Linked DNA regions of Homo sapiens. The protein of the gene in region 7 purifies or fractionates together with the protein of the main gene of each other region. This does not show direct contact. Each region holds a gene or a part of one and is shown on either strand. Other genes may lie near its edges. The genes, in order: LRBA, KCTD13, RNF146, OTUB2, FAM170A, PRDM1 and SENP1.

Region 1 (4,306 bases), on a different chromosome or scaffold from region 7:
TCATTCAACAAAAATTTACTGAACATCGGTAGCAGGCCAGGCATTGTGTGATGAACACATTGTTCCTGACTTCATGGAGCTTATATTCTAAAGAAGGTGTCAGAAAATAAACACACGAATATGTAAGATAATGTCAAATAGTAATAAGAGCTTTGAAGGGAGGGGGAAGTACAGAGTGAAGAACTGTTCTGAAAGTCTAGGCGAGAAGGTGTATTTACTAGTGTAACTGCAGTAGGCCTCTCTGTTCTATTTGAACAAAGGCAAGAATAAAAGAGAGAGCAAGCCATGTAAAAAGAAAAGAGTTTCAGGCAGAGAAGAACAAATGCAAAGGCCTTGGAGCTGAAATAAGCTTGGTATGTATGATGAATAACAATAAAGCAATAAACTGAGAACTAAAGAAAATGAGGTCAAAGATGTGGCCACGAGCTAGATTATGATTGTAGAACATTATAGACTGTATTAAAGACTGTATTTTATTCTGAGAGAGCCATTTGAGAATTAAGAGTGTAGGGAAGACAATCTGATTTCCCTTTTTAAAAGATCAGTGGCTGGGCACGGTGGCTCACGCCTGTAATCCCAGCACTTTAGGAGTCCAAGGTGGGCAGATCACCTGAGGTCAGGAGTTTGAGATCAGCCTGGCCAACATGGTGAAACATTGTCTCTACTAAAAACACAAACATTAGCTGGGCATGGTGGCACACACCTGTAATCCCAGCTACTCAGGAAGCTGAGGCAGGAAAATTGCTTGAACCCAACCCAGGAGGCAGAGGTTGCAGTGAGCCAAAATAGCACCACTGCACTCCACCCTGGGTGACAGAGTGAGACTCTGTCTCCAAAAAAATAAGACTGGTTAGCCTACTTTTTGGAAAACTGACTTTAGAGAGAGCATTTCTCCACCAACAAACAATTATCATTGTCAAAAGAAAGCAAGTTACATATTACCAACCTCACAGTCATTTTGAAAATAGGCCATTTATTTCTACAATAGCCTGTGTTATAGAATGACTTTAGTTTTCAATAATCATTTGCTTTGATTTTATTTATATTAAAGGTTTTTAGAATTTGTATTATACAATGGATCAATAAACATGAGTATATGTAATTTATATGTACAGGTTAAGAAACAATTTTTTTTAATCTCACATGCCTACCACCCATGTCAAGAAGTAAAACGTTACCAGTACCTCACAATTCCCCTATGTGCCCTGCCCAAACTGTACTCCCTATTTCTCCACTACAATCAGAAAAAAATCACTATCCTGGTATTTCTATCGTTCACTGTTTATAAATAGTTTTACCTGGAGGTCAGAGCTTTGGGAGATAATTTTAAAAGATAGTTTTACTATCTATATACTAAACATACCCATTATGTTTAGTTTAAAAAACTAAGTCTAACACAAACCTAGCCAATTGTATTTTAAAGAGCAATACTGCCACACCTGAGCTCCCAAGAAAAGACAAGATACACAGAATCTGTGAGTTGCAGCAGGGCTTCAGCTTATTTGAGAGAATATGTAAAGCCATTTCTGGGAAGTCTTATAGGCAAGTCATTAGGAAATACAGGAAATATAGAGGTCAAGAGAACTGGAGAACCTATCAGAGGCAGTGTGTGCCAGGTAGAGTGTATTGGCATGAAATACTTTATATTTTTCAATTCTAAGCTCACCATGGTGAACCTCTACCCTAAGAAGTAGGTCGAAGCACAGCATGTCTTTGTGGAGTGAAGTGAGAATCTTCAGGTGATTCACATTAGACAGGAAAACAGGAATTTAATCAGCACATGATGAAGGCAAGCAAGCTAAGTACTCCTAATAAGAATACAGGTCCACCTCTCCTGAGTGAAACTGCTCCAGTCCAGATGGACTGTCATCTGCCTACTACATAGCTGCTATTGGGATCTCCCTTTCTACAGTCCTGGAGATCCCCTTCATCTCTCTTCTATGTTGTCTCTTGTTTCTTATATTTCATTTCTTCCTCTTTGTATTATTCTCTCCTTTTGTGCAATATCCTGCAGTGCCTTCTTAAGAAAGGATGTATATAAATGTTTTGAGATCTCAAATCCTGAAAAGGTATTTATTCTCGCTTCATACTTGATTAATAGTCAGAGTATAAAACCACAGATAGAAAAGCATTTACCTTCAGAATCTGAAATGCTTTTAAAATTCTAAAGTCATTTGGTTTTTAAATTTGCCCTTAATTTAATTCATCCAATGGTCTAAAAGCTAAATTGCAATTGAACAACTATCAGTATTATCTTTTTGGATGCTGTTTTCCTTAAGATATTTGTGACTTTAAAACTGATAATTTCCAATTAATTGCCAGATATTGTTCTAAATTACCCAGCTAAAAGACTAGTCATTAATCTTCACAATCATTTGATAGCTAATCTATAGCTGTTTGTAATGTTTGGAAAGCACTTCTATAAACTACTAGTTAAAGATACTTGTGAGCTAATGACTATAACATTTCTTTTGCCATTATTTTCAACTTAATTGGCACTCAAATTTACTAATTAGTAGATAAAAGATAAACACAATACATCCAGATGTTAATATTATCTTTTTAATCTATACATTAAAACCGTATAACCTGTAAAATTTAGACATTTTAAACTGTTAGGCAATGTTTAGCAACTGACTTTGTTTTTAAGCAAAGGCATCTTTTTCAGTGTCTGTTTTCATATGAAAATACCAGCTAAATATGATGTTAACTTCTGATTAAGTTACCAACCTTTGATAAATAAGATATATCTTTAAAAACAGGTGGATCTTCCCATATGTATTATCAATGAGCATAAGTCAAAATGATTGCCACCACATTAATGAGATCTTTTATAAAGACTCTGATGTATAACAATGGTATAGGTAACAGATATAATGGTAAAATCAAGCATTACTGACATAATTAAGAGCAATTCTAAAGGTTGGTAGTACAATCCCCATTTATAAAGATAGGAAGAACACTGACAAAAGAATATTGCAGCAAATAACTTCTAATCTTTTCATTTTTAAAACAGTCATTTTGATCAATTTTAATTTCTTAAAAACAGTCTAAACAGATGCTTTCATGCAAATCTAGCGTATAAACTGGTACAAATTTTTAGAGGGCAATTTAGCAATATCTACTAAAAACTTTTTAAAACATGTACAGACTCCTTCCTCTGGAAATTCCACTTACAGGAATTTATCCTACAAAATAAGGGTTACAGTATTGAACCAGGCTCATCATTGGTCAATGATAAGGAACAGATAAAGTATGATTATAATATAAATCAATAGATTTTTTAAATCTCTCTTCCATCAATTTTTCTAAATACAATTTTGGAGAATGCCAGAATATAAAAAGAAAACTTGAATCATTTACACGGTCACTCCTTCCTAGAATTTTAAGTGGTCTGATAACATTCAAATGTTATATCAAAGCTGAATCTTATGCTCTTTACTTCTCCATAATGTCATATAATATGCAGGCATTAAAATTCATGTAAGAAGCATATCATTAAATAATACTCTAAAATAGTAAAAATACGATCACATTTTGTTAGCAAATAATTATATGTTATGTATAGATTCATGTATAGAAGAGAAGACTAAAAGGTCTCGCACTAAAATGTTAATAAGTTATACATAGGTGTTTGGATAATGGATAATTTTTGTTTTCTGTGTGTATGCATTTCTGCTGGGTTCAAGATTTCCTGTAATGAAAACTTATTATTATTTTAAATTTTTTAAAGTAATAAATGCTATTTGGTTTCAAAATGTTAAAGCTAAGAATACTTTTAGCCAGGAACAAAGGTACATGCCTGCAGTCCCAGCTACTGGAGAGGCTGAAGGGAGAGGATCACTTGAGCCAAGGAGTATGAAGCTGTAGTGTGTTATATATAATGGCACCTGTAAAGAACCACCGCACTCTAGCCTGGGAAGCACAGCAACAGTCTGTCTCTCTCTCTTTTTCTTTTTTTTTTTTAAGTGCCATTTAAATTTGATAAAAACACACACACAAACACTCACACAGAAATCAGGTATTTTTAAAGAATTATTTAGCAATTAAATAAGGTGCAAAGTGCTGATAATCCATGAAATGCGGACATTTTGTAACTTTTTTATTTTTGTAATTTTTGTGAGATATCTCCTTTCATCACCCAGACTGAAGTGCAGTGGCACAATCTCAGCTCACTGCAGCTTCAGCATCCCGTATTCAAGTGATTTTCATGCCTTAGTCCCCAGTAGCTGGGACCACAGGCATGCACCACCACTCCTGGCTAATTTTTGTATTTTTAGTAGAGACAGGGTTTCACCACGTTGAC
Region 2 (4,306 bases), on a different chromosome or scaffold from region 7:
GGCCTCAGTAATTGTAGACTTTTATTATTCTCTGTTAATTTTAGAGAGTCTTATGAGTTTCTGCAAAAAACAAATCTGGAATTTGTATTAGAATTGCGCATTGAGTTTTCAAGGTTGGGAGAAGTGAGAGGGATTTTGGCATGAAGATTCTAGAAGACAGAAGAGAAAGAAGCCCATGGGTTTGCTTCAGATTTCTTTCTCCAACGTCATCCCACCCAATGAAGTTCATTCACTCAACAAATATGTTCATTCATTCAACAAATACAGAGCATCAGCTGTATACTAGGTAGTTATTCCTAGGTGGGAAGAGACAGATCATAAACAAATACAAAAAGTTAGAAAAAGTCAGACACTAACTGCTGTGTAGAAAATGAACTGATAGGCCTGGTGCAGTGGCTCACGCCTGTAATCCCAGCACTTTGGGAGGCTGAGGCGGGCTGATCACCTGAGTTCGGGAGTTCATGACCAGCCTGACCAACATGGAGAAACCTCGTCTCTACTAAAAATACAAAATTAGCTGGGTGTGGTGGCACATGCCTGTAATCCCAGCTACTCAGGAGGCTGAGGCAGGAGAATTGCTTTAACCCGGGAGGTGGAGGTTGCAGTGAGCCGAGATGGCGCCATTGCACTCCAGCCTGGGCAACAAGCGAAACTCTGTCTCAAAAAAAGAAAAAGAAAACTGATAACACAAAAGGCAGGATGTAGAGGAGGCTGTTTTAGCCAGGGGGGCTGGGGAGGGCTGGCCCTGAGGAGGCACTGTGTGACCTGCGATCTGAATGGCATGACGGACACGCCACGCTGACAGCTGAGCAAAGAAGCATCCCGGGCAGGGGCACAGCCAGTGGCCGGGGCAGGCACAAGCTGGATGTGTGAAGCAGCAAGGTGTCCGTGGGACCAAGGCCCAGCAAGCAAAGGGAGAGTGGCAGAGAGGCTGGCGGAGCTTGGAGCCTGCAGAGCCCTGCGGACCACTGAGGAGTCTGGAGTTGTTCCCAACCAGCTTTTGAAGGCTTTTAAGTGGGGGAGTACGTGGCCTTTGGTTGTGCTGTTAACCACCTTCCGCTTCTTCCCCAGCAAAAAAGGGAGACGCTGTCCCCGCTGTGCCTCATCCCCATGGTGACATCTCCCCGGGAGGAGCAGCAGCTCCTGGCCAGCACCTCCAAGGTGAGGCCCCCAAGCCCTGCAGGGTGGAGGCTCACTGGGGGGGCCTCTCCCTGCAGCCTCACCCCTCTCGTCCATCCTCTCTCCCCCGCCAGCCCGTGGTGAAGCTCCTGCACAACCGCAGTAACAACAAGTACTCCTACACCAGGTGACCGCCGGGGTGCGGGGCACTGGGCGGGACCCTGGGATGCAGCACAGCCCTGCTTCTGCCCAAGGCGAGGGCCACGGCCACACGGGGGGCCTACAAGAACATCTGTGCCTGCTCGCAGATTCGGCTTCGCCTCTTACCCCTGACGCTCTAGGCAGGTCCTTTCTGCTTCTCAGCTTCAGCTCAGTCATCAGTAAATGGGTTTGGGTGAGGACAAAGTGATAGTGGCGAGCCTATCCCAAGTGCTCTCATTCTAGGAACTGGCAGAGTCCTCCCCCTTGAGGTCAGTACTGTTGTGAGCTCCATTTTACAGATGAGGAGGTCGGGACACCAAGAGGTGAAGTAACTTGCCTAGTGTCACCCAGTTAAAAAATGGGGACACCAGGACCCCCGGGGAGGTGGCCTGGCTCCCGGTCCCTCACTGGAGCTGCTGTGCTGTGCTGTGCTGGGATTTGCTCAGCGCATGTGGCTTCCCTTCTGAGACCCGTTTAGCCTGGCCCCAGGGGTGGAGGAGGCTCTCTGTTGAGCACCAAAGCCCTGGGCAGGAGCAGAGGACTGGGAATGCATCCAGGCCCGTCTTCTGGGGGTACAGAGGGAGGGGTGCCAACTGCGCTGAGGCCTCCTGGTCCCCTGGTCCCCAGCACTTCAGATGACAACCTACTTAAGAACATCGAGCTGTTCGACAAGCTGGCCCTGCGCTTCCACGGGCGGCTACTCTTCCTCAAGGATGTCCTGGGGGACGAGATCTGCTGCTGGTCTTTCTACGGGCAGGGCCGCAAAATCGCCGAGGTGTGCTGCACCTCCATTGTCTATGCTACGGAGAAGAAGCAGACCAAGGTCAGAGGGGCTCCAGAGCCTATGTTGGGGGCTGGGGGTGGCCAGGACCAGGACCCTGGACAAAAGCAGGTTGGCAGGGGAAGGAGCCCACCACCAGGAGGCAGGAGCCAGATCCTGGGGTCTGGGGTGCACAACAGTGGGCAAGCCACCCTATCCCTGTGGGTCTCTGTTTCTCTGTGAAATGGGGGTCACGGGTTAGAGCAGGGTGCTTAGCCTAGGCCTGTTGGATGGGTTTCAAGGCTGTTTGCAACTCCTGAAATGGGGGTGTATGCATTTTTCTGTATAGGGGGTCCATAGTTGCCATTAGAAACTCAGAAGGGGTGAGGCATAGTGGCTTACGCCTGTAACCCCAGGACTCTGGGAGGCCAAGGCAGGAGGATCACTTGAGCCCAGGAGTTCGAGACCAGCCTGGGCAACATCGTGGGACCTGATCTCTGTAAGAAGTCAAAAAATTTAGCCAGGTGTGGTGGCTTGGTGACATGATGGCATGCACCTGTAATCCCAGCTACTCAGGAAGCTAAGGCAGGAGGATTGCTTGAGCCCAGTAATTTATTTATTTATTATTATTATTATTATTATTTGAGATGGAGTCTCGTTGTGTCACCAGGCTGTAGTGCAGTGGCACAATCTCCGCTCACCGCAACCTCTACCTCCCAGGTTCAAGCGATTCTTCTGCCTCAGCCTCCCCAGTAGCTAGGACTACAGGCACGTGCCACCATGCCCAGCTAATTTTTGTATTTTTAGTAGAAACGGGGTTTCACCATGTTGGCCAGGATGGTCTCAATCTCTTGACCTCGTGATCCACCCACCTCAGCCTCCCAAAGTGCTGGGATTACAAGCGTGAGCCACTGCCCCCAGCCTATTTTTTTTTTTTTTTTTTTAGACAGAGTCTCACTCTGTTGCCCAAGCTGCAGTGCAATGGTGTGATCTCAGCTCACTTAACCTCTGCCTCCCAGATTCAAGTGATTCTCCTGCCTCAGCCTCCCAAGTAGCTGGCACTACAGGCACCCGCCTCCATGCCCGGCTAATTTTTGTATTTTTTAGTAGAGACTAAATGTAGTAGAGAAGTCTCTTTAGTAGAGACTTCGCCATGTTGGTCAGGCTGGTATTGAACCCCTGACCTCAAGTGATCTGCCCTCCTCGGCCTCCCAAAGTGCTTGGATTATAGGTGTGAGCCACCGGGCCCGCCCTAGCCCAGGAATTTGAGGCAGCAGGGAGCTATGATCATGCCACTGCACTCCATCCTAGGAGACAGAGTGAGCCCTAACTCTAATTAAAAAAAAAAAAAAGGGAAACTCAGAAAGGCCCATTGCCAAAAATAGATTCTTAAAACCTCAGAATCAGATGTCTCTTAGAACATCCTCTGAGTTTGTAGATCCTGAGTCATTAATGTGGCAATCATCAAGATATTCCCCAAGCCCCTGCTCTGTGCTAAGTACTGTACCGGGCTGGAAATCAAGGGGAATGAAGTGCTGAGCAAAATACAAGCCCTTCCTCATCTGGTCCCTTCCGAGCTTACTATGAGCCACATGCCTCAGGTACACCACAGTCATCACAAGTCTCTAAGCACTCAGTGCTATTTCTTACCTCTTACCTCTGCACACACTGTTGCCTCTTGGAATTCTTTCCTTCTATCTGCCTAATGAACTTGTACTTAATCTTAAGACTCAAGCTAAGCATCACTTTCTTTGGGTCACCTTCACTCATGAACTTTCAATCCAGCAACCCCAAAGTTGGTCACACTCCCTTCATAGCTAAAGACAGTGTTTTATCATGTGTGGTGGAGGGGAGGGGGTTTGCATCAGCAGCGAGGTGTTAGTTCCTTGAGGGCAGGGCCATGTCTTTTTCTTTCCTATCTCCCATTAGCTGGGCCCTTTTCACACAGTGGAAGCTAGGAAACATTTATTGAATGAATGAATGAATGAATCAGTGACCCAGCTTCCAAGAAACATCCTCTGATTGGGAAGATAGGAAGATAAACCAATAATTAGAGTGCATGGCTCACACCTGTAATCCCAATACTTTAGGAGGCTGAGGCAGGGGACCATTAAGGCCAGGAGTTTGAGGCCAGCCTGGGCAACACAGCAAGACCCCATCTCTACAAAAAATAAAAAAAAATTAACTGGACATAGTGGTACACCCAGGTACTCAGGAAGCTGAGGT
Region 3 (4,306 bases), on a different chromosome or scaffold from region 7:
AAAACTGCACATTTTCATACACTCCCTATATATAGGACAGGAGGAGACAATTTACTGCTCCAACATCATTACTTTTTCTTTCAAGTCTCTATCACACTGACTTTAACATACCCCATAATCCCCTAAAACTGCTCTCTCACCACCTGTAAGGGATTAATGTCATCTTTTCACTACTGATCATCCTCTTCATCCTAACTCCTGACATGACTATCAGCCTATTTAAATAGCCTTGAAAATGAACCATCCAACACCTATTGCACAGGTTCTTAAACTTGTCCCAACTTCTATTCATCAGAATCACTGAAATTGCTTGTTAGAAATACATATTCTCAGCCCCTTTCCTTAGAAATTCTAGGCCAGTAGACATAGGTTTAAACCTAGGAATCTCACCCCAGGTGGTACTCATGCTTTAGTCCTTCAAATACAATCTGAGAAACACCATCCTCAATTTTCAGTTCCTTAAATCCTAAATTTGAAGAAATTAATCTACTCTCCAGCAACCAAATATTATAATCACATTTAAAGCTAGTTGTCACCTAAACTGCTGCCTCTCTGAAATCTTAATCCGACTCTCAGATCACAAGCTCTGGTTCTTCCAGCCTACTCATTCCCACACCTGCTCTTCAATTTCATGGGGACCTACCATCTCTTGACCATCTCCTTTCCTTTATCCAGTTCCTGATCTCATTTCCTTTCCTGCCCATTCTGGAACCCAATCTTTTTTACTTCTTAACAGAACCCTTGGCCCCCTCATATCTTTATCTCATATACACACATTTTACAAACCCCCATTTCTGCATAATTCTTACAATATGACATCTCAGGTTTCATGTCTTAACTACTTTGTGTTCATGGAGAAAAAGAGAAAGTCCTTTCTCTCACCACACAGCCCCCTGCTCCCCCACCCCAACCAACCACACCATAAATTCTGTCAACTTTTATTCCTAATCCCTTTGGAATCTATCCTGTACTCTCTACCCATTGCTAGTGCCCTAGTTTAAACCTACATAACTCTCACCTGGACTATTGTTCAGCCTGATTATCTTGTGTCAGTATCACCCTCATTTATTAAGCCTTTGAGTGAGATTCTCTCTCTCTCACTCTCTCACACACACACACATACACTCACTCTACAGTCTGTTTCCCAGGCTAGAATGCTGTGGCATGATCATAGCTCACTAAAACCTCAAACTGCTTGGCTCAAGCGATCCTCCCATCTCAGCCTCCCAAGTAGCTAGGACTGACTGATATATTTAAAAGGCAAAATGGACCAGGTTTCTTCCATATGTGAAGCACAATATTGGGTCCTCAGCCTACACAATAAAGACAAAGCTCCTTAGGACAACATTAAAAGGTTTTAAAGATCTAAACTGTAAATAATTAGTCTCTAGTCTTTTTTATCTTCAACAACCACCCATAGATTAATAATCTAGTTGTATAAAATTACTCATAGTCCTGCAAACCTCCCTTTGTAGCTCTGTATTTCCTCCTGCCTGGTACGATCTATTCCCTTTTACAGCTTATGAATGCCTATTTGTTCTTTAATATATTACACAGAAATGGTTATCTCTACCATTTTCTCTGACTACCTCCAGAAAGTTAACTGTTCTCTCCTCTATGTTTTGTATGTTTTTCTATTACGGAATTTATCACATGCACTAATTTCAATTCATTTGTGAAGTCTGACTCTTCTGTGAAATCATGAATCCCCTGAAGATAGGGAGATTTTTATATCTTTAAATAGCTAGTAAATTGTCAATCAATTTTTGTTGAACTGATATTTTTTGGATGAATGAAAAATCAACTCCTAAAAGTAACTATTGTGAGGAACAGAATATCAAAGGATTAGATTTATTCAAATAACACAACACTTGAGTTCTAATTGTGAACTCAAGCTGGAATCTGTAAGATACATAAAAATATCTAAGTTCTAATCCTTGCTTTATATAACTTAAAATCTAAAGGAGTTCCTACATTTACAAATATAAAATTCAACCCATCTTTGTATCTTTTGGCAAGCAAATCATTTACCCAGCTATTGTTCATTGTCAATGAATTCTCCAAAATGGAGATAAAAATCTAAGCATAAACCAAGATGGGTTTCTGAACAGCCAAAACAGCTTCACAAAGCTCTTTCCCCAATAAAGCTTATGATTCTTCACTAGGATGACCACATAGGTCAGCCCAGCATCTATCCAGTTTGCCCTTGGTCTCCCAACAAGTGTTCCAGTTCAGAAAAATTATACAGACATTCTACCCTTTACCCATCACAAAGGTTTTCGGACCATCACTCAAAAGTCAATTTGCTCTTACTTTACCCACAATTCTTTTGTTTTGTTTTGTTTTAAGAGACAGCGTCTGTTAACCAGGCAGGAGTCCAGTGGTATGACTGCAGGTAACTTAAACCTCAAACTCCTGGCCTCATGTGATGCTCCTACCACAGGCTCCCAAAGTGTTGGGATTACAGGTGAGGGCCACCATGCCCAGCCTTTACCCACAATTCTAACTTGAAGTTTTTTGGTCCACAAAGTCCTGCTGAGTGTTGCTGTTGGTCATTAGCACTGCCTATCCTTCGCTATCTTACAAGTCTTTTAAGATGTACCAATCCATCCTTCTCAGAACCTAATTGATTGAATGGTAAAACCTCTAGTGTGAAGATTCAATTAAAACATTTCTTCTAAAAATTTCGTTCAATCACTATTTGTACTTTAATAATTGAGATGTGTAGAAGGTACCATTTTATTCCTAAGAAATACACAAAAAATGTCCTTGTTTCTAATTCTCCTTATCTCCTGAATGCATTTACACATTATCTGTAACCAATCTAATTTATTCCTCTCTATTCACTTACTTTACTTAGGTCTTATCCATAAATATTTTATCTCTGAAACAAAAGTTGATTCTTAAAGGAATCTAAGTTAACTGAAACAAAGCAGCTTCAAAATAAGTACAAAAAAATCCTCTAAAGAACCCATATTTGAACACCCAAATAAGCTGTGATCTTTCCTATAAAACTATTTCACATAGCTGAAATAAAGCTATAGCCACAAATATTAAAGTAAAAGCTTTGCTACATATCCACTAGAACAAAGGTACTAAAAAAAAATCTGGTTAATTCAAGGAGATGCATTCTCTCATTCTGCTTTCCTTATTTGAAGACTAATGATTAAATTCAAGTAACTTATCAATAGCAAAATTATTTGAAAAAGCCCCTTATAAAGAAAACACACACACACACAAACCCAGGAGCAGAGAACTATTTACTTAATAGTACTGAAATAACAGCAAAGTATCTATGAATAATGACTTTCCATCAATATAAACTTTCTCCTTCAACAGAAAGAACATCCTTGCCCTCATTACACTCCTCTAGTCCAGTTATGTTCAGCAGTAAACAAAAGAATGTATCAGTGACCATAACTCACATTCGAGTATCTTTCTATACATTAATGCCATTTTCAAAAGAACACAGCCAAAGACATATTTATTTAGCCTATTTCTTCAATTTTTTTTTTTCTAATTCTGGCCTGAAGTCATTTCTAGGATTCCTTTAGAAATGGCTTTCTCTAATTTTCAAAATATTGATGATGTCATTTCTTTCTTTAAAGATCTTTGACGATAACCTCATACAGCTGACCTTTCAACAACACAGGTTGGAAATGAACAAGTTGACTTATATACATACAGTTTTTTCAATAAATATGTTGGAAATTTTTTTGGAGATTTGTGACAATTTGAAAAAACTTGCAGATGAATCATGTAGTCTTGAAACATCAAAAAAAGGAAAAGAAAAAATTAGGTATATTATGAATGCATAAAACATATATAGTCTATTTTATCATTTAGTATTATAAAATATAGAGAAATTATAAGAAGTTAAAGTGTATCAAAACTTAGTAAACACAGACACATATGGTGCCACTTGAGGTGGTACAAGAAATTTAAACAAATGTAAAGATGCAGTATGAATCATAGCTGTATAAAATTAATTGTAGTACATACTGTAATAATTTCCTGTTGCTATTATGAATTTCCACTTAAAATGCTGTGGACACTAATCATCTCTGCATGTATTGGAGTAAAATGTAATCTCTTGTTCTTGTGTATTTTTCATCATGTTTAGTACAATACCATAAACCTTGAATAACACCATGGGACCCATGTGAAGTGCCACTAGTGATGCTAGAAGTGCTCCCAAGAAGCCAAGAAGTCATGCCATTACAAGAAGTTAAATTACCTGGTACACACCCTAGATGGGTCTGCAGCTGCAGTTACCCATCATTTCAGACAGACACCTTATAAACAG
Region 4 (3,500 bases), on a different chromosome or scaffold from region 7:
TGCTCTATTGCATAAAAATGGTCTCCCTGGGTTGTGTGCAGGAGCCAGCCTCATTTATTTTAAGCTGTAAACTATAAGTGGCTTTAACACCATGTCTCTCACAGTATGTTCATGCTGCAATCAAAGCGGCTCTGGGTGGGTTGGAGGCTAGAGTTGCATCTCCTGCTTGTTTGAGCCCTGCTGACAAGATAGCACAAGGCGGAGACCAGGCCCACGGGGAGTTGGCTGCTAGAACGTGTCTCCTGCAGTTTCCTTCACCCTGAAGCTTCCTTTTGCAGTTGCCTCCTCTCTGTCCGCCAATTTCTTCTCTGGCCTGGAGAGATCCTGCCTGTAGGAGGCTTGTCTTTCTGGGTTGGAATTGACCTAGACCCAGAGCTGGGCTGTAGTGTAAACTTTCGCCGGTAGGTGGTGCATGAAGATGCCCTCCTGCCCTGTGCTCCCCGAGCTCAGATCTCTGACACCTTCTCTGGCATCTCCATGTACCAGTGCCACACACTGCGGCCTCTTCTGGTGACCTTATCACCCCCTATCTTGATTGTTTTTCCCTGTAGACTGTGAGCCTTGTGGGTGAGGGAGTGCTAGACGTCCTTCCTTCTGTATTTCCAGCATGTGACACAGTGCTGGGCATGTGGATGTTCAGGAATTGTTGGATGAGTAAAAGAATGAATGAACGAATGAATGAATGCATGAATGAGAGAAGAGGGATGGAAGGAGACAAAGGGCCTTATCCTCCAGCATGAAGGTTCGTTAAGTTTGAGGTACACATTCTGTGAAATGAATCAGGCTTCCAGTAAAAAGATGAGTTTCCTTATAACCAGGGCTATCTCTTCACGATGGCCCCGACCCTGACTATCCCTGTTCTGGAAATGCGGTGATCCCAACGGGCGTCTAGGATGCTGGTAACATACTCCCAGCATGAGAAGGTGGGAAGGTCTCATTCATTGTTGTCTGTAACCGGCAGTTCAGAGGCCACCAGCTCGGGGAGTCCCGTCCGTTGCTTTTGAAATTGTCACAGCATTTCTTCCTTCCCTATCTTTCAGAGTGAAACATCTTTCAACCTAATATCAGAAAAATGTGACATTCTATCCATTCTTCGGGACCATCCTGAAAACAGGATTTACCGGAGGAAAATCGAGGTGAGGCAGAGGGCAGGGAGAAGAGCATCCGAAACTAAACAGGCTGGAGTTGGGAGTGTAATGGTGATGCCTCTTTGAAGGCCGATAGTTTGGGCCAGGTTCCTGGGCAAATGAAAGGATTCCTAGGATATTTTGATGTTGGACATTTGCCTTAGCGATAAATCCTTTCATTCCAAAAAAAAAAAAAGGATTTTTTTTTGTTGAAAAGTTTAGCACTATCCTAATGTTTTATTTACTCACCAATACTTCATTACAACTCTGTGAGGTAAGTACTTTTATTACCCCCATTTTACAGCTGAGGAAACTGAGGCACACAAATTAAGTGGTGGCCATTTAGTTCATGAGTGGCCAAGCTAGGATTTAAACCCAGGCAGCTGAGTCTCAAGCCACATTCATAACTGCTGTGCTGGGAGACCTCTTGGAGGGAAAGTTTACGCCAGTGAGGCTAAAGGGATTTGTGGGAAGGCTGCAGGGATCGCTCATGGAGCACTCACCCGTGGATGGCAGGAGGAGCTGGGTGCCCACTCTGTCCCTCTGGTAGGAGGCCCTGGCCGCTCTCTGCACTCTGCAGGTCTTCCTCTCGCTGCAGGACAGGCTTGCTCTGGCACTGGCCCCACAGGCCCTTCCCTTCAAGTTCCTCTCAGACACGCAGCACCGTTGCTGGGCCTCATTACTTATCCTCAGAGACTCTGATAGGTCCAGCTTGGGTCAGATGTCCATCAGCAGCCAGGGGTAGTGGTGTGGGCATCATGTGATCCGAACGCCGCTGCGGGGCACTTCCAGGGAAGGAGCTGGGCTCTGCAGCCCACTGACTTTTGTGTCCCCCAGAGCCCTCCTGGGAGATGAGCCAGGGGCTCCAGAGAGTGCCTGCCTCCCCACTGCCAGCTGGCCTCAGGTGGGCCCAAGTCGGCTCTGAGCCTTCTCATGGCTATGGGGGGAACAGGAACTCCAAGACCCCTTGAAAACCATCCTCTGCTGTCAAAATGCTGCTTATAGTCCCATGAGGCAGGAAAGGGGATTCCAGGCCAGTTCAGAGGGACACCTACTTACTGCTAGGAGTGGAGCTGGAGCCCACCCCTCCCGCCCCTGCTCACACATGCAACCCCCTACCCCCTACTTCTGCCAGCTCCCGATTCTCAGTGCTGCTCCCCCAGGAAGGCTTCCCCAACTTCCAAAATCCAGTGCAATGCCAGTGCCCCGTGGCACCCAGCCAGGCACTCCTGTCCCCTCACAATGCCACTGTCTAATTATCCATCTTCCCTCCCGGACCGTAGGCTGCCTGGGGGCAGGGACGGACACACAGGACAATGCAGTGTATTTTTATATCAGGGGAATGAACGAGGGTGGGAGGCTGAGGGGATAGCAGCCTGAAGGGAGGGAGCAGACATTTCCTGGGAGAGATGGGGGGCACCTGGCCAGTCCCAGTGCCCAAACCACACAGAGCCGTTGTTGGTGCAAATGCCCACATTTCTTTCTGTCCCCCTCAGGAACTCAGCAAAAGGTTCACCGCCATCCGCAAGACCAAAGGGGATGGGAACTGCTTCTACAGGGCCTTGGGCTATTCCTACCTGGAGTCCCTGCTGGGGAAGAGCAGGGAGATCTTCAAGTGAGTGCCGGGGCCCCTTGGCCTGTCAGGGCTGTGTTCTCTGTGCTAGGTCAGCCTCAAGTCTCTCGGAGGTTTTCGTTACACTCAGGCTGGTTAACCCAGAGAATGAGCTGAAGAGCTGCCTGGCAGAGGCGTTTGATGTTGGGGGTGCCCAGCTGCCTGCTGTGGTGAAGTTGGGGGCAGCCAAGGGGTGGAGGATGGAATCTGTGACCTCCCAGATGCTTTCCAGCCTCTGCTTCCACCACAGGCCTGGGTCAGCCCAGGTGAGTCGCAGGGAGCAGGTACTTCGTGACCCACTCTGAAAAGAAAAGAAAAGACAAACAAAAAGAAGCTTTGCCCCGGTGTTCTGCATAATTCCTGTTGACCTTGGTGTGGAGTGTGTGTGACCCAGGCATTCAGCTGGCTGGGCCTGTCCCTGAGGTTCATGCTGGAGAAGGTCTGTGTCCAGAGCTGCCCCTGTCATCTCGGCTAGTTCAGGGCTTCTCATATCTGAAGTTTGTACAAGGCGCCTGGTTCTCTAGTCCATAGCAAGAAAAAAAAAAGCAAAGACAAACAAACCCCTGAGACCTGGCTTGGACCCGAATTCCTGTCCAGTGGGAGCAGGGCAGAGCAGGGACTGCTTTTGTCACTGGCTCCCAGGAGATGCTGATGCTGCTGGGCCTCAAACCACGCTTTGAGGAGCAAGGAGCTAAGAGACCCACCTGGCTCTTAACCTTTGGGGGTCTCAGAGCCCTTAGAGGCTTTGGTGAGGGCCATGG
Region 5 (4,821 bases), on a different chromosome or scaffold from region 7:
AAAGGTATGAAGGGAACAGAGATATGATGGATGGGTAATGTTTGTGCATCATTTACCATCCAACAAATATTTACTGAGTGGCTGACCTATGTCAGGTGTAGTGAACACACATGGTTTGTGAGACAGGCTTCTGGTGGATACTCCAGTATTTAATTACAGTCAACAGGTATTTTGATAGTGTATCAATAGGAACATAGGCCTGTGTGGTGACTATGAGTACGTCTGAAGCGTAAGAGTGATACATACCAGATAGCCTTTGATATGTGTAGATTTGTGTGGGTATATTGTAGAAACATGTGTCTGTGTCTGTGGAGTTTGTGTGCATAGTTTTGTGTTTACAACCCTGAAATTATGCAATATGTAATTTTTCCTGATTGTATGGTGTGGCTTGTATTTATAATGTACATTAATTCATTCATCTGGCAATATTTTCATGAACAGCTACCATGAATCAGACACCAGTCCACTCTTCTAGGCTCTAGGAATACTGAACAAAACAGTCCTTCTTCTAAGTGGACTTTCCATTCTAGACAAGGAAGACAGACATTAAGCAGAAATATATAAGTATATCATAGGTCAGCTCATTATGAATTTATAAGGGTCATCAGATTTAGCAAACAAAAATAGCTGATGCCAAGTTAAATTTGAATTTTAGATAAATTACAAATAATTTTTTTAGCGTAAGTATGTCCCGTGCAATATTTGTCATACTTATTTTTAGTGTCAGTATGTTCCATAAAATATTTGGGACACACTTATACTAAAAAATCATTGGTGGTTTATCTGATATTCAAGTTTAACTGAACATCCTGTATTTTATCCGGCAACCCTAATAAGGGGATGGTGGTGAATCTTTGTTTCGTTGTGGTCTATGCAAAGCAGGCCTGGCTCTGCTACACAATGTGTTGCAGATATGGCATGTATGATGTGTGACTGGCTCTTAAAGAGGTATTTAGAGATAGTTTAACATAGATGTGTTTGTGTGAGAGTTGAGGAGACACACACACACACTCCCCACACACAAGAAATCTCTGTAGGAAGAAAAGACTGTCACACACATGGGTTGTGTGAGTATGTAATAGAGGAACGGTATGTGTATATAACTATATCCACTGTGTGTGGAGGTGTGTGACTCTTTCTCTGTATCAGAGTATATATGGGCATATGAGTGACTGTCTCCTGGAATACCCTTAACAAAAATTCGGTATACACTGTTATGTGTATTGAGTGTTGCCCAGGCCCAGGCATGGTGATAGGAAGTTCACCCCGCAGACCCCACCACTGTGCTCCCATTATCTCCAGTCCTCCCCCTCCCAACACACACACACATGTGCACACACAGACACACACACAGGCAGACAAAACATTCTGAAATGTAAGGGTAGATGAAGGAGAGGAAAACCATTGCCTTCCCCTTCCTGTCCCAGCCCCCTGCTCTCCATGCCTACTCTCCACGCCTCCATTCCCAGGGCTCAACCTACAGGTCTTTATGCCTCATAGGCGCTGCTGAGCTCTAATCGGGGCAGAAGCCTCCAGGGCCATCTCTGGGGCAGGCTCCTTTCTGCCCTGTCTCCTGCATGTGAGCATCCCCCTTTCAGGATAAGTGGCTTGTTTACATTTAATACATGCCATTATCATGCAGCCTGGGAAGTAAATTGACAGCGATCTGAGGCCCTTACCCTGTGCTTCATTTCCTCTGGGAAGTCCCACACTGTGGATTCACAAACTCTATTGGATTAATTGGTTAATTCTTCCCGCTGAAGCAATCAAACCTCCGTGGTTTCACTATGACGCCATCCCTAAACAAGTGTTTAATCTACTTTCTAACAAGCATTTCACTTCTCAAGATATTTTTCAACAAGGCCTTTAACTCATTGGGCTACTCTCGTTTCTGCTAAAAGGTGTAGTGCAAATCATAGACTTCTACCAGCACCCTTCACACCTTCCACCTCAGTCACCCCAGAGAAAGAGCAAATAAAGAGAATACGAGAGAAAGATGAGACTCAGGCTGCATCACTGGGTCTTTGTAAGTGGGTCCCCCGCCTGCCTGAGACTGGCATAGTTCCAGGTACCAGCAGCCCCAGAGCAAAAGTTCTCAGCCCAGCAGGGTTGGCTTTCTGTGTGCCAGTGGCATCTGAACTTCCTGTCCGTCTCACATCTGGGTACCCTCAAGATGGATGTGCGGGCATCAGCCAACAGCCAGGTCTTCCCCTCCCTACTGCATAGGTGGTACATTCTCCTCAGTTTCTCCTCCCTAAAGAAGGCTCAGGCTGGCCGGGAGCGATGGCTCACGCCTATAATCCCAGCACTTTGGGAGGCCGAGGCAGGTGGATCATGAGGTCAGGAGATCGAAACCATCCTGGCTAACACGGTGAAACCCTGTCTCTACTACAAATACAAAAAAAAAAAAAAAAAAAAAAATTAGCCAGGCGTGGTGGCGGGCGCCTATAGTCCCAGCTACTCGGGAGGCTGAGGCAGGTGAATGGCGTGAACCTGGGAGGCGGAGCTTGCAGTGAGCCGAGCTCACACCACTGCACTCCAGCCTGGGCGACAGAGCAAGACTCTGTCTCAGAAACGAAAAAAAAAAAAAAAAGGAGGCCGAGGCAGGCGGATCAGGAGGTCAGGAGATCGAGACCATCCTGGCTAACACGGTGAAACCCCGTCTCTACTAAAAATACAAAAAATTAGCCGGGCGTGGTGGTGGGCACCTGTAGTCCCAGCTACTCGGGAGGCTGAGGCAGGAGAATGGCGTGAACCCGAGAGGCAGAGCTTTCAGTGAGCCAAGATCGCGCCACTGCACTCCAGCCTGGGCGATAGAGCGAGACTCCGTCTCAAAAAAGAAAAAGAAGGCGGCTCAGGCTGGCCAGTGACGCTTGTGCCCCAGAAAGTTTGCCCCGCACATACCTCCTCCCTTCTCAGCGGTTTCCTGGGACTCTTCATTTTCCAAATGTTTCCTCTTTTGTCGTCGTTTCATGATATCAGCTAGAAGAGTTTCTAGAAGATGCTTAATGTCCACCTCCCACTTTTTCCTGTAGATTGGCCCTTCTTGGCTCTCAGGAAATTCATTAAAAAGATTCAGTACGAGTAAACGTAGTTGAATCTCCGAGATAGCTAAAGAACTCAGACCGCTTAGTGAAGGAGCAGCACTGCCCAGTGCCCACTACACTGCAGGGCTGTTAAGGTTCAAAGGTCACCAGGCCCATCGCAGATTCTCTGACATCAATGATGACATCACGGCGTTCTACGGACCTAGGTCCAACACAGTCTGTGCAACTGCAGAGACATCATTTTCAAAAACAATTCCTTTTTTCCAATAGAAGTCCTCTAATGAATTCAACTCTCCCGTATTTCAAATGTGGCAGAATATTTTGAGATGTTAACATGTTCTGTTTAATTTTTTTCTTTTCTTCTTTTTTTTTCACCCTTTCCCTTCTGGACTCAAGCAGGTAGCAGGCTTTGTGTTCATTGCTCAGAGGAGGGGTATGGCAGGGCTGAAAGCAGCAATAGCATGTTAATCATCTTGACTTTTCTTTCTTTTTTTTTTTTTTGTTGTTTTTATTTTGTTTTGTTTGTTCAGAGACAGGGTCTCTCTCTGTTGCCCAGGCTGGATTGCAGTGGTGTGATCATAGGGTCACTTCAGCCCCTAGGCTCAAGTGATCATCACACTTCAGCCTCCCGAGTAGCTGGGACAACAGGCACCAGACACGAGGCACCACACCCGGCTAATTTTTTTTTTTTTTTTTTTTTTTGAGAAACAGGGTCTCAGTATGTTGCCCAGGTTGGTCTTGAACTCCTAGCCTCAAGCTATCCTCCTGCCTCAGGCTCCCAAAGTGCTAGGATTGTAGGCATGAGCCACCACACCCCACCTGACTTTTATTTCTAAAATCTCAAACTCTGTAGGAAAGAGGAAAGTTAGCAGAAACATAACGGAAGCAGGATTTTTTTTAACTAGGCATGCCCCCTTCTTGCTCTACTATAGTGTTGAGAGGTACTGATTAGGTCAGAGAGAGAGAGGGATCTTCAAACTATGGAGGAGAGGAGCCCTCTAAAATGTGGCTGAAGAGGTACATGTGGCAAAAACTTCAAGAAGGGCTGCCTGTATTATGCGTACAGGCAGAATCATGGCGACCTATCTCACACATGGCATAGGAGCCACACCACCTAAAGACTCCCTGGCAGCTGAGCTGATGGGCATCTAAACTTCAGCTGTATGCTCCAATAACCAGAGACTATGCTCTCACCCCACCCTCAAAACCTCAGCCCTGTATGATTTCCAAATAGGGAGGGGTGGAAATCCAAAGAGGACATCAACAGAACCAAGGCTTAAATTACAAATTAAATGGAGTTACATAAGAAAATTGCATACTATTTCCTGCACATCTCTGCTCATGGGCTGAAATGTATACCAGTTATAAGTGGCAACCCATCTGGATCTTCCTGATTCCAATCTAAAATTAGAGACACCTTATTTGGGGCAGTGGCCCCAGTCCAGTGGGACTATTAGTTGACAAGTATGAGGGGGACTCCCAGAAATCACTGCATTAAAAAAGCAGTAGAAATACCCAGAGGACCAAGATGGGCCCAAATTTGAAAGGGCACTGCAGACTGTCCCCAGGCAGAAGGAGAATGAAGATAGGGCAAATGTAGCCTTGTAAAAATTTGCTGATGAGATTAAATCTCCAGTTTCTTAAAGAATCCCTAAAAAAGAGGGGCCAAAGAGCATTTTTTTGGGTGGTAGAAATTTTCAGACTAAAGTAGAGAGAATTGTATAATAGGAATGCAGTTTCATGTACACATAATCCAGTTTCAACAGTTATCAGT
Region 6 (4,306 bases), on a different chromosome or scaffold from region 7:
TACCCAATACCTATTTGAGCACAACTATAGACTCATCACTAGTAAGCTATAAAGCAGCACCGGAAGTAGCTCTTGCCATCTCTAACCTTACAAATTCAATTCAACAGGCAAGACAGGAGAACAATTAAAAAGAGAAGGCTCTGTGGTAGAAGAGAGGTCTATGATAATCCTCAAACCCCAGACAAATTAAAGAGCTTCAATATTAGCTTATCATTAGGAAAGGGACAGAGCGCCCTAATATTTTAAATTTCAATTACATACAGTGCTATAGGGCACATATAAACTCACACCTATAGATAAAGATACAAAATCATAAAATTTCAAAACTGGAAGGCACTTACAAACCACCTATATCCATTCTAAGTCTAGCGTTCTAATATACAGTAAACATCTTCATCTCAAATGCACGTCTGAGACACAGACGCCATAAAAGCTGAAACTCTAAGACTATGGTGCTTGTCCAGGTAACTTTGGAGGGGGAACAGGAACCAGGATTGTTTTTAAAGGGAAGTGAAAAAACCAAGTACTAAGTCTCCCTCTGGTCCTAGAAAGATCCAGAATGTGCATCTTAGACTACCCATCTCCCTGACCCATAGTTTGTAACAGTTTATCTTTGAACCAAGCAAATACTAAGGAGGAACTTGGTGTGTAGCTTAAACTTCACAGTGCTAAAAAGACAAAGAATGTGTTCACCTAACTCAAGAAGGAAACTTCACTGGAACTGACCAGGGTCCTAAAGAATTACTGCTGGGGACAGGCCGCTCTGTGCCTTCTATAAACTCAACAGCAAGAGGACACCCGGCTTCAATACCTCCTTGCTTCACCTGCTCCCACAGAAGCTCTTTATGTGCGGTGCAGACCCCTCCACCACTTGAGCAGATTTGTTTCTGTCTGTGGCCTCAGTTACAGAACACACCCCGCCGTCCACAGTTTCCACAGCTTCCGGACAAAACACAGGGCTTCTTTTCAATTTTACACAATGAAGGAGATTTGACAGCTTAGGATGGGTTGAGTTGGAGCGCTTAATGGAAGGCTGATAACAAGGACAATATAGGTTTGTTTTTTTTTTTTTTTTTCAAATTCCTTCTTTAGAGAGTATGCAAACAGACACACACAGCGTGGGTTTGAAGCAGAAACTATATCCAAGTCTAAATGTCATCTGATCATCCTCTCCCCAAATTACATTAAGATCATTTAAATTACTAGCTATCTGTTTTCCCTCCCCGAATCCCACTCTATAAGAATGACTCGTTAGATTATAATTCTGTTTTGACCATATGAATATTTGTCTTGAGAGAACTAGAACTCAGTAGTGACCAAGACCTTCAGCCTGCAATCACCTCATTTTTATTTTATTTTATTTATTTAGAAACAGGGTTTTGCTCTTGTTGCCTGGGCTGGAGTGCAATGGCATTTATTTACTTATTTATTTTGAAACAGAGTTTCACTCTCGTTGCCTGGGCTGGAGTGCAATGGCACGATCTCGGCTCACTCCACCTCCCAGGTTCAAGCGATTCTCCTACCTCAGCCTCTCAGGTAGCTGGGATTACAGGCGCCCACCACCACGCCCGGCTAATTTTTGTATTTTTAGTAGAGATGGGGTTTCACCATGTTGGCTAGGCTGGTCTTGAACTCCTGACCTCAGGTGATCTGCTGTCCTCAGCCTCCCAAAGTGCTGGGATTACAGGCGTGAGCCACCGCGCCCGGCAATCACCCCATTTTTAAAAGGAGTGAAGTGAACAAAGTTGTTTGGAGAAGGTTTCCTTCTTCATTATCTTTCTATTAAAGGAGACATGGTGATGCCTTGGTACATCATTTCTCAAATAAAAGGCAACATGAAGAGAGAATTGCATGTTATGGTGAGATACTTTTTACAGATGGCTTGAGTTAATAATGGATTTCGATCAGAATGGACACCAAAGGAGTCCTCACAATCTGTCTGATGTTTATCAGCCACGATACAGGGAGGTGAGACTCACAGAGCCACAGTGCCTCTTGAGTGCAAGCAGTCTCAACCGACGGCAGAAACTCTACAGGGTAACGCTTCTAAAATATAAATGCTTGAACTGATTTTTCTGTAGTCAAGTAGTCATAAGAGATTATTTCAGGAGGACAAGGGGAAAACCCCCATAAAAGAATAACCCATCAGTTTAAAACATTTTCAAAGTTTTGAATAGTAGGTCTATATTTGATTTCAGTTCTGGAAATAGGAAGTAAGAACAGTTTTTCATTAAAGGTGCAGAATGATTCTAAACCCAATCTAAAAATGAGGGTCAAGATCAGAAATATGATTTGTATGTTTTGTTTTAACCAAAAAAAAAAAAAAGGTGCTGACACATGGTACAAATTCATAATGAAAAATGGTCTTGTAAAAAAAAAATTCCCCGGTATGTCAGCACAATAGTACATATTGTAACATCTTTTGCTATTTAAACGAAAACATTTAAAGAAGGGCAAGATTAATAAGTCAGATAAAAAGTACATGTAGAAAGACTCTTCCTATTTCAATGGCTCATGGAACTTAAAGAACTAACTGAATAAAGATAATGTAAACATTTCATCAATCCTTAATGTTGCTGTCCCGGAACTAGTTTGCAGCTATCCTACCCTTAATGGCTCAACTCCACCATCCTCTTTCACCTTCTAAAGGAAGCTGTCCTTTCCCAAAGTTCAAAAACAAAGGAGAGAAACAGAAAAACAGGTACAAATTCCAGAGTAAGCTTAAGACAGTATTACATTCAAGTTTACTCCTTGCTTGACTTTATGATTAGGGTTTAAAGACATACTATCCTCTATTCAAGCGCTTCAGTTAAATGCAAGATAGGGAAATAGGATAAGAGAACCCTCACCTCTTAGGTTAGTTTCGAAGGACCTTCTTCAGGAACACAGGCATTGTCTGTTTTTTGGTTGCTTAATATATTGAAATAGGAAGTTATACATTCAGAGGGAAAAAAACACAAAATAGCTTAAGGATTGGTCTGAAATATATTAAGATGATAACTAAAACCACAGTGACACCAAGAGGGGCCAGTGTAGCATAATCGAGAAGCACTCATTGGAGAAGTCAGAAAAGCTTTGCTTCAAGTCCCCGGTCTGGCTTTACCTATATGCCTTTGGGTAAGTGACTGTCTTTCTGAACCTTGAACTAAATGATCTAAGAGCATTACTTGACTTAGCTATGATTTTAAAGGAGAATGACGGAAATTGAAAAACTTAAGCTAAGAGCTGAACTGACGATAAGAACATTATAGAATTAAAAGGCAAAGATGACCCACAGAATGGAGATTTTTACTTCAGTCCCAAAGGACTGGACAGGGCAACACAGCACAAACGAAGCTTGGGAACAGACGAATATTTGGTCAAACTTGATATGGGGAAAAAACACACTACACTTTTTAAAGCCATAGTCAAACCTCATATACCCAAACAAATCCTACATTCATTCCAAGGGCCACATATTGAGAGACTTTCTATAAGAAGAGCATTACTTTCAGGAAGAGGTATAATTAAGGCTGACCTCTGGGGTTAAATTTTTTGGTAACATTCAACTACAACTAGAATTTAAATTTTATTTTTTATAAAATCTGCCTCCATTCACGCAGCAGTGGGGGAAAAAAGAAAGACTGAGCATCGTTGTTCTATTTAATTTTAGACAGCTGTGTCTCCCCCTCACCAAAAACACTGGACTCAGACACACAAACAGGAAAGAGACAAAGCATTTCCTAGTCTCCCGGATTCCTTCAAATACTGTTCCTTAGGGAAGGGGGAAAGTGATTTGACACGGCTGTAAGGAATAGTCCCAGTAGCAAATTCTGGATTTCTACGGCCAACCATCCCCTTTCCCTACTTTCTGAAGGAAGTAATAGAATTGACAGTGCTCTGTGCTAATGGTGGTATGGGAAGTCTGCTGAGGGGTCCTTTCATTCAACTCAACCCAGTAGTAGACTAGTAAGTGCAACTACAGTAAGCCAAATTCTGAAAACAAGAGGTGGTTCTGCAAGTTATTTCACAGCTAAACATCACGCCTAGCTATAATCTTTATATTAAAGGTAAACACAAATCAGTTGCTCATTCCAAGTTTGGGTTTTCATCCCCTTTGAAACAACAAAGAGTGTACCCACTTCAGAGGCCAGTAAGGAATTGGCCTGCCAGCCCAGCCCCAGCAAAGGAGCTGCTGCAGATAAACAGTGGTTAGCTCTGAAGTCATCCAGACAGAGGACACTTTTACATGACCCCCTTTCTCGGCTTATACCATCACTTCACTTCATAAACACGTCAAAGTTTTGAGGATAGTTTTAGAAACCCA
Region 7 (4,306 bases):
GATTCTGTCTCTTAAAAAAAAAAAAATGATCTGCAACTAGAATAGTGCTTGGCACAGAGTAGGCATTTAGTGTTGTTTGTTTGTTTTTTGACTCTCACTCTGTTGCCCAGGCTGGAGTACAGTGGCACAATCTCGGCTCACTGCAACCTCCACCTCTCGGGTTCAAGAGATTCTCCTGCCTCAGCCTCCTGAGTAGCTGGGATTACAGGCACCCGCCACCACACCTGGCTAATTTTTTCTTTTTTTTATTTTTATTTTAGTAGAGACGAGGTTTCACCATGTTGGCCAGGCTGGTCTCGAACTCATGACCTCCGGTGATCCATCCACCTTGGCCTTCCCAAAGTGCTAGGATTACAGGCATGAGCCACCATGCCCAGCCATATAGTATTTCTTGAATAAACAAGTAATGTAGGGACAAGCAGTTTTCTTCAATGGATCAAGGTATCCACTGGCTCCGGAAAACAAAATGCAGGGAAAATCTGCTTTTCCAAAGAGATGCATTATTTCTCATATAATTGAGGCATATAGTAATAATAACTGCAAATGTTTTTGAGCACATACTTAGTGCTCTACATGTAAAACTCTGCTCTAGATGTTTTATGTATTAGTTAAGCCTAATGAAAATCCCTATACTATTTAAACCTCAACATAATATATAAAAAAGAATTATTACTCATACTGTACAGAAATGAAAAAGGAGGTTCAAAAAGATAATTTCTCTTGAAAGGCTAGGATTAGAAATCTTATCTGTCCAATTCCAAAGACTGTGTTCTTTCGACTGTGCCTTTCAATAGATGAAAGCATTAAAAAAAAGCGGGGGAGGAATAAGTACTTGGGCTACTCAAGAGAGCACTTCAGGCTATCTAGGAAATTCATTTGTTTAACAAAGATTTATTTACTGAGCACCCATCATATGCCAAGCACTATGACCAGCAATGGGTGACAGATACAAAAGTATTAGTAACAAACAAGGTAGAAGGATGGAGGGAAAAACTAACATTATCTGGCAAAGTCAAAGAAATCTTCTGAGAAAAAAAAAATAACACCTGGATGAGATTTTGAAAAGCAAAATTAAGGCCAGGCACAGTGGCTCATGCCTGTAATCCCAGCACTTTGGGAGGCTGAGGTGGGTGGAACACCGGAGGTCAGGAGTTCGAGACCAGCTTGGCCAACATGGTGAAACCCAATCTCCACTAAAAATACAAAAATTAGCTGGGTGTGGTGGCATATGCCTGTAATCCCAGCTACCCTGGAGGGTAAGGCACGAGAATCACTTGAACCCGGGAGGCGGAGGTTGCAGTGAGCAGAGATTGTGCCACTGCACTCCAGCCTGGATGATAGAGCAAGACTCTGTCACAAAAAAAAAAAAAAAAAAAAAAAAAAGAAAGAAAGAAAAGGAAGCAAAATAAGAGCTTACCAAGTAGACAGAGAGAGAAAGGGACATCCAGACAGAAGGATCAGAATGTATAAAGGCAAAGAGGTATGACACAGCATAGCATATTCTGGGAAATAAAAGCAGATCTTCATTACTGGAACTTAACTGAGAGGCAGTAGTGGAGAATTAAGAGTAGAGAGCCAATAAACCAAGCCTCAGCAGAGTAGGCACCAACTTTGACAAAGAGCATTGCTCAAACAGCCTTACCCAACAGACCATTTCTCCTGCCATCTCATTCTTTAGTCATCACTAGGGGAAATCCTCCGTAAAGGAAAGGCAGTCTTAGTAAAGAACCATTAAGGAACTGAGATCAACTCTTTACCTGAGAGATCAACTTCTTCCCAAGAAAGTTGCATGCATCTTGTGGCATTTCATGTGAAGCACTTATAAAAATAAGTGTTTTATCTGTAAGTTAATCTTCACAATTAAGTGTAAGGTATCAATACTGGCATTTTATTGATAAGGAAACTGAGGTTCATAAGAGTAACTTGTCCAAAGCTACATGAAGCCTTTTCCAACCCAAGATCAGAAGGCAGATCTGACTCCAAAAAAGATGTAAGAAATAAAGAATCCAAACTATGAAGTCTCCCCAAAAGACTTAACAAATAGAGAATTTTAAGAAATATTTAAAGCTTAGAACATATGGGGAGCTGCAAAGAAGTAGGGGAACTGAGATGAGAAAGAATATTTCATTACTCTTAATCTTCTCAACGGAAAACTGATATTATTCTCATCCTAGCAATTGAATTCCCAAAGCCATATATGGCAAAGGCATAGCAATCATAGTAATGGTTACTATGGATTACTATTACTGTATTACAGAGGAAGAAGTATTTGATACCTCCAGATAAGTAAAGTTTCATGCAGAAGTTCACATGTGAGTTGAGACCTAAAAGATAAAACACTACTGACAGACAAAGTTGAGGTACGGAGGACATTCCAGGCAAAAAGAACACTGAATGTGAAGGTAAGAAATGCTTATTGTATTTGCAAACTGAAAATAGTCCAGCTTATAAAAACACATGAAAGAGTCCCATATTTCCATATGGCTCCCTCTTACCTCCATCATGTCTCTGCTCAAGTCACTTTATCAGAGACTTTCCATGACCACCCTATACAAATAGTATCCTCCCAATCCTACTCTATATATTACCCTGCTTCAATTTTCTTCATAGCACTTATCACAAGGCATATACATTTGTTTATCCTTCCCCTCAAGTAGAATGCAAGCTCCTTGAGCATAGGGACTTCACATTGTCCTTCATCCTTCCCCTCAAGTAGAATGCAAGCTCCTTGAGAATAGGGACTTCACATTGTTCCCTATTATCCTCAATATTTATACTAGTACCTGGCACACAGTAGGCTCTCAGTAAATATTTGTTAAAAGTGAGAAAGTGAGGCTTGTGAAAGAAGTGCTTTGTATACCATAGTAAGGAGCCTGAGCTTAATTCAATGTCTGATAAACCACCCTTGAAGGAGGTTAACAAATAATCATTAAACCCCTTTAATGAATGATCAGACATGAATTCTGAAAGATCACTCTGATTGCAGCATGGAAGATGGACTAAAGAACACAGCAGGCCGGGTGCAGTGGCTCACACCTACGATCCCAGCACTTTGGAAGGCCAAGTTAGGAGGATCGCTTGAGGCTAGGAGTACAAAACCAGCCTGGTCAACATAGCAAGATCCCGTCTCTACAAAAGAAAAATTTAAAAGTTAGCCAAGTATGGTGGCATGCATATGTGGTCCCAGCTGAGGCAAGAGGATCACTTGAGCCCAGGAGTTCAAAGCTCCAGTGAGCCATGATTGTGCCACTGCACTCTTGCCTGGGTGACAGAGCAAGACCCTGTCTCAAAACAAAAACAAAAACAAAAACAAATGAAAAAAGAGCAAGGCAGAAAAATTGTTTCAAGAACATGGTATGGTGGAAGACGGAATGAAGAACAAAATAGAGGCTGAAGGAAGAACAATTATAAAGCCACTAAAATAATTCAAGTAATACGTGAGAAAGGTCTGAATTGAGGTAGTTTTACATTATGTAACTTTTAGTGAAAAAGCTGTGATTAAAGAAAGGGAAAACAATATGTTAAGAAGAAACTTTTAGGCCAGGCATGGTGGCTCACGCCTGTAATCCCAGCACTTTGGGAGGCCGAGGCAGGTGGATCACTTGAGGTCAGGAGTTCGAGACCAGCCTGGCCAACACAGCAAAACCCCATCTCTACTAAAAATACAAAAATTAGCTGGGCGTGGTGGCGGGCGCCTGTAATCCTAGCTACTCGGGAGGCTGAGGCAGAAGAATTGCTTGAACCAGGGAGGTGGAGGTTGCAGTGAACCAAGATCGCGCCACTACACTCCAGCCTGGGCAACAGAGCGAGACTCCGTCTCAAAAAGATATATTAATTAATTAATAAAGAACAAGCTTTTTCCAAAGTTTACCTGGGAGTTGGAGTCTGGGAATCTTTCACTTTCAGTAAAATCACAGAGTCTGATCCTAAAGAAACACAAGAGCATTTCATTAGTAATAAAACTCCACAAAGTTATACTTTCTAGATATCTTAGTTTAAGTTCCCATACTTTGCTATATTTTATTTCCACAAAAATAACATAAGAACAAAGGTTAGATGGGAGAGAGAGAGAGGCAAGTCCATTGTCACTGAGAACAGAAATAGGTCTTAGTGAAGAATTTGCTTCACAAATAAGAAAATCCCTGGGAAATAACAAACATATTTGCCCTTCAGAATTTCCTCCTAGGCTGCACTTGCTCCCTGTGCTTCCTGTCTGTTTCAGGAGAACAAGAACATGGCAGGATTCCTTAAAAGTCTTCATGGTAGTCCTCTATCTGCAATTTTGGTTTCTATGGTTTCAGTTACG

The links.
Region 1: the proteins of SENP1 (region 7) and LRBA purify together in Homo sapiens (co-immunoprecipitation; one large-scale study listed by IntAct). This does not show direct contact.
Region 2: the proteins of SENP1 (region 7) and KCTD13 purify together in Homo sapiens (co-immunoprecipitation; one large-scale study listed by IntAct). This does not show direct contact.
Region 3: the proteins of SENP1 (region 7) and RNF146 purify together in Homo sapiens (affinity purification with western blotting; one study listed by BioGRID). This does not show direct contact.
Region 4: the proteins of SENP1 (region 7) and OTUB2 purify together in Homo sapiens (affinity purification with western blotting, with the first as the bait; one study listed by BioGRID). This does not show direct contact.
Region 5: the proteins of SENP1 (region 7) and FAM170A purify together in Homo sapiens (co-immunoprecipitation; one large-scale study listed by IntAct). This does not show direct contact.
Region 6: the proteins of SENP1 (region 7) and PRDM1 purify together in Homo sapiens (affinity purification with western blotting, with the first as the bait; one study listed by BioGRID). This does not show direct contact.

Annotation. Positions count from the first base shown.
Region 1 is NC_000004.12:150,854,430-150,858,735, forward strand, and holds part of LRBA (lipopolysaccharide-responsive and beige-like anchor protein), read right to left. Parts: intron 1-4,306. UniProt on the Homo sapiens protein: Involved in coupling signal transduction and vesicle trafficking to enable polarized secretion and/or membrane deposition of immune effector molecules. Involved in phagophore growth during mitophagy by regulating ATG9A trafficking to mitochondria.
Region 2 is NC_000016.10:29,908,815-29,913,120, reverse strand, and holds part of KCTD13 (BTB/POZ domain-containing adapter for CUL3-mediated RhoA degradation protein 1), read left to right. Parts: intron 1-1,071; coding exon 1,072-1,161; intron 1,162-1,253; coding exon 1,254-1,306; exon of another isoform or gene 1,307-1,460; intron 1,461-1,563; exon of another isoform or gene 1,564-1,947; coding exon 1,948-2,143; intron 2,144-4,306. UniProt on the Homo sapiens protein: Substrate-specific adapter of a BCR (BTB-CUL3-RBX1) E3 ubiquitin-protein ligase complex required for synaptic transmission.
Region 3 is NC_000006.12:127,272,973-127,277,278, reverse strand, and holds part of RNF146 (E3 ubiquitin-protein ligase RNF146), read right to left. Parts: intron 1-4,306. UniProt on the Homo sapiens protein: E3 ubiquitin-protein ligase that specifically binds poly-ADP-ribosylated (PARsylated) proteins and mediates their ubiquitination and subsequent degradation. May regulate many important biological processes, such as cell survival and DNA damage response.
Region 4 is NC_000014.9:94,036,340-94,039,839, forward strand, and holds part of OTUB2 (ubiquitin thioesterase OTUB2), read left to right. Parts: intron 1-1,040; coding exon 1,041-1,136; intron 1,137-2,623; coding exon 2,624-2,742; intron 2,743-3,500. UniProt on the Homo sapiens protein: Hydrolase that can remove conjugated ubiquitin from proteins in vitro and may therefore play an important regulatory role at the level of protein turnover by preventing degradation.
Region 5 is NC_000005.10:119,627,922-119,632,742, reverse strand, and holds the start of FAM170A (protein FAM170A), read right to left. Parts: upstream 3,186-4,821; 5' UTR 2,975-3,185; coding exon 2,905-2,974; intron 1-2,904. UniProt on the Homo sapiens protein: Acts as a nuclear transcription factor that positively regulates the expression of heat shock genes. Binds to heat shock promoter elements (HSE).
Region 6 is NC_000006.12:106,088,901-106,093,206, reverse strand, and holds part of PRDM1 (PR domain zinc finger protein 1), read right to left. Parts: intron 1-4,306. UniProt on the Homo sapiens protein: Transcription factor that mediates a transcriptional program in various innate and adaptive immune tissue-resident lymphocyte T cell types such as tissue-resident memory T (Trm), natural killer (trNK) and natural killer T (NKT) cells and negatively regulates gene expression of proteins that promote the egress of tissue-resident T-cell populations from non-lymphoid organs.
Region 7 is NC_000012.12:48,067,796-48,072,101, forward strand, and holds part of SENP1 (sentrin-specific protease 1), read right to left. Parts: intron 3,927-4,306; coding exon 3,872-3,926; intron 1-3,871. UniProt on the Homo sapiens protein: Protease that catalyzes two essential functions in the SUMO pathway.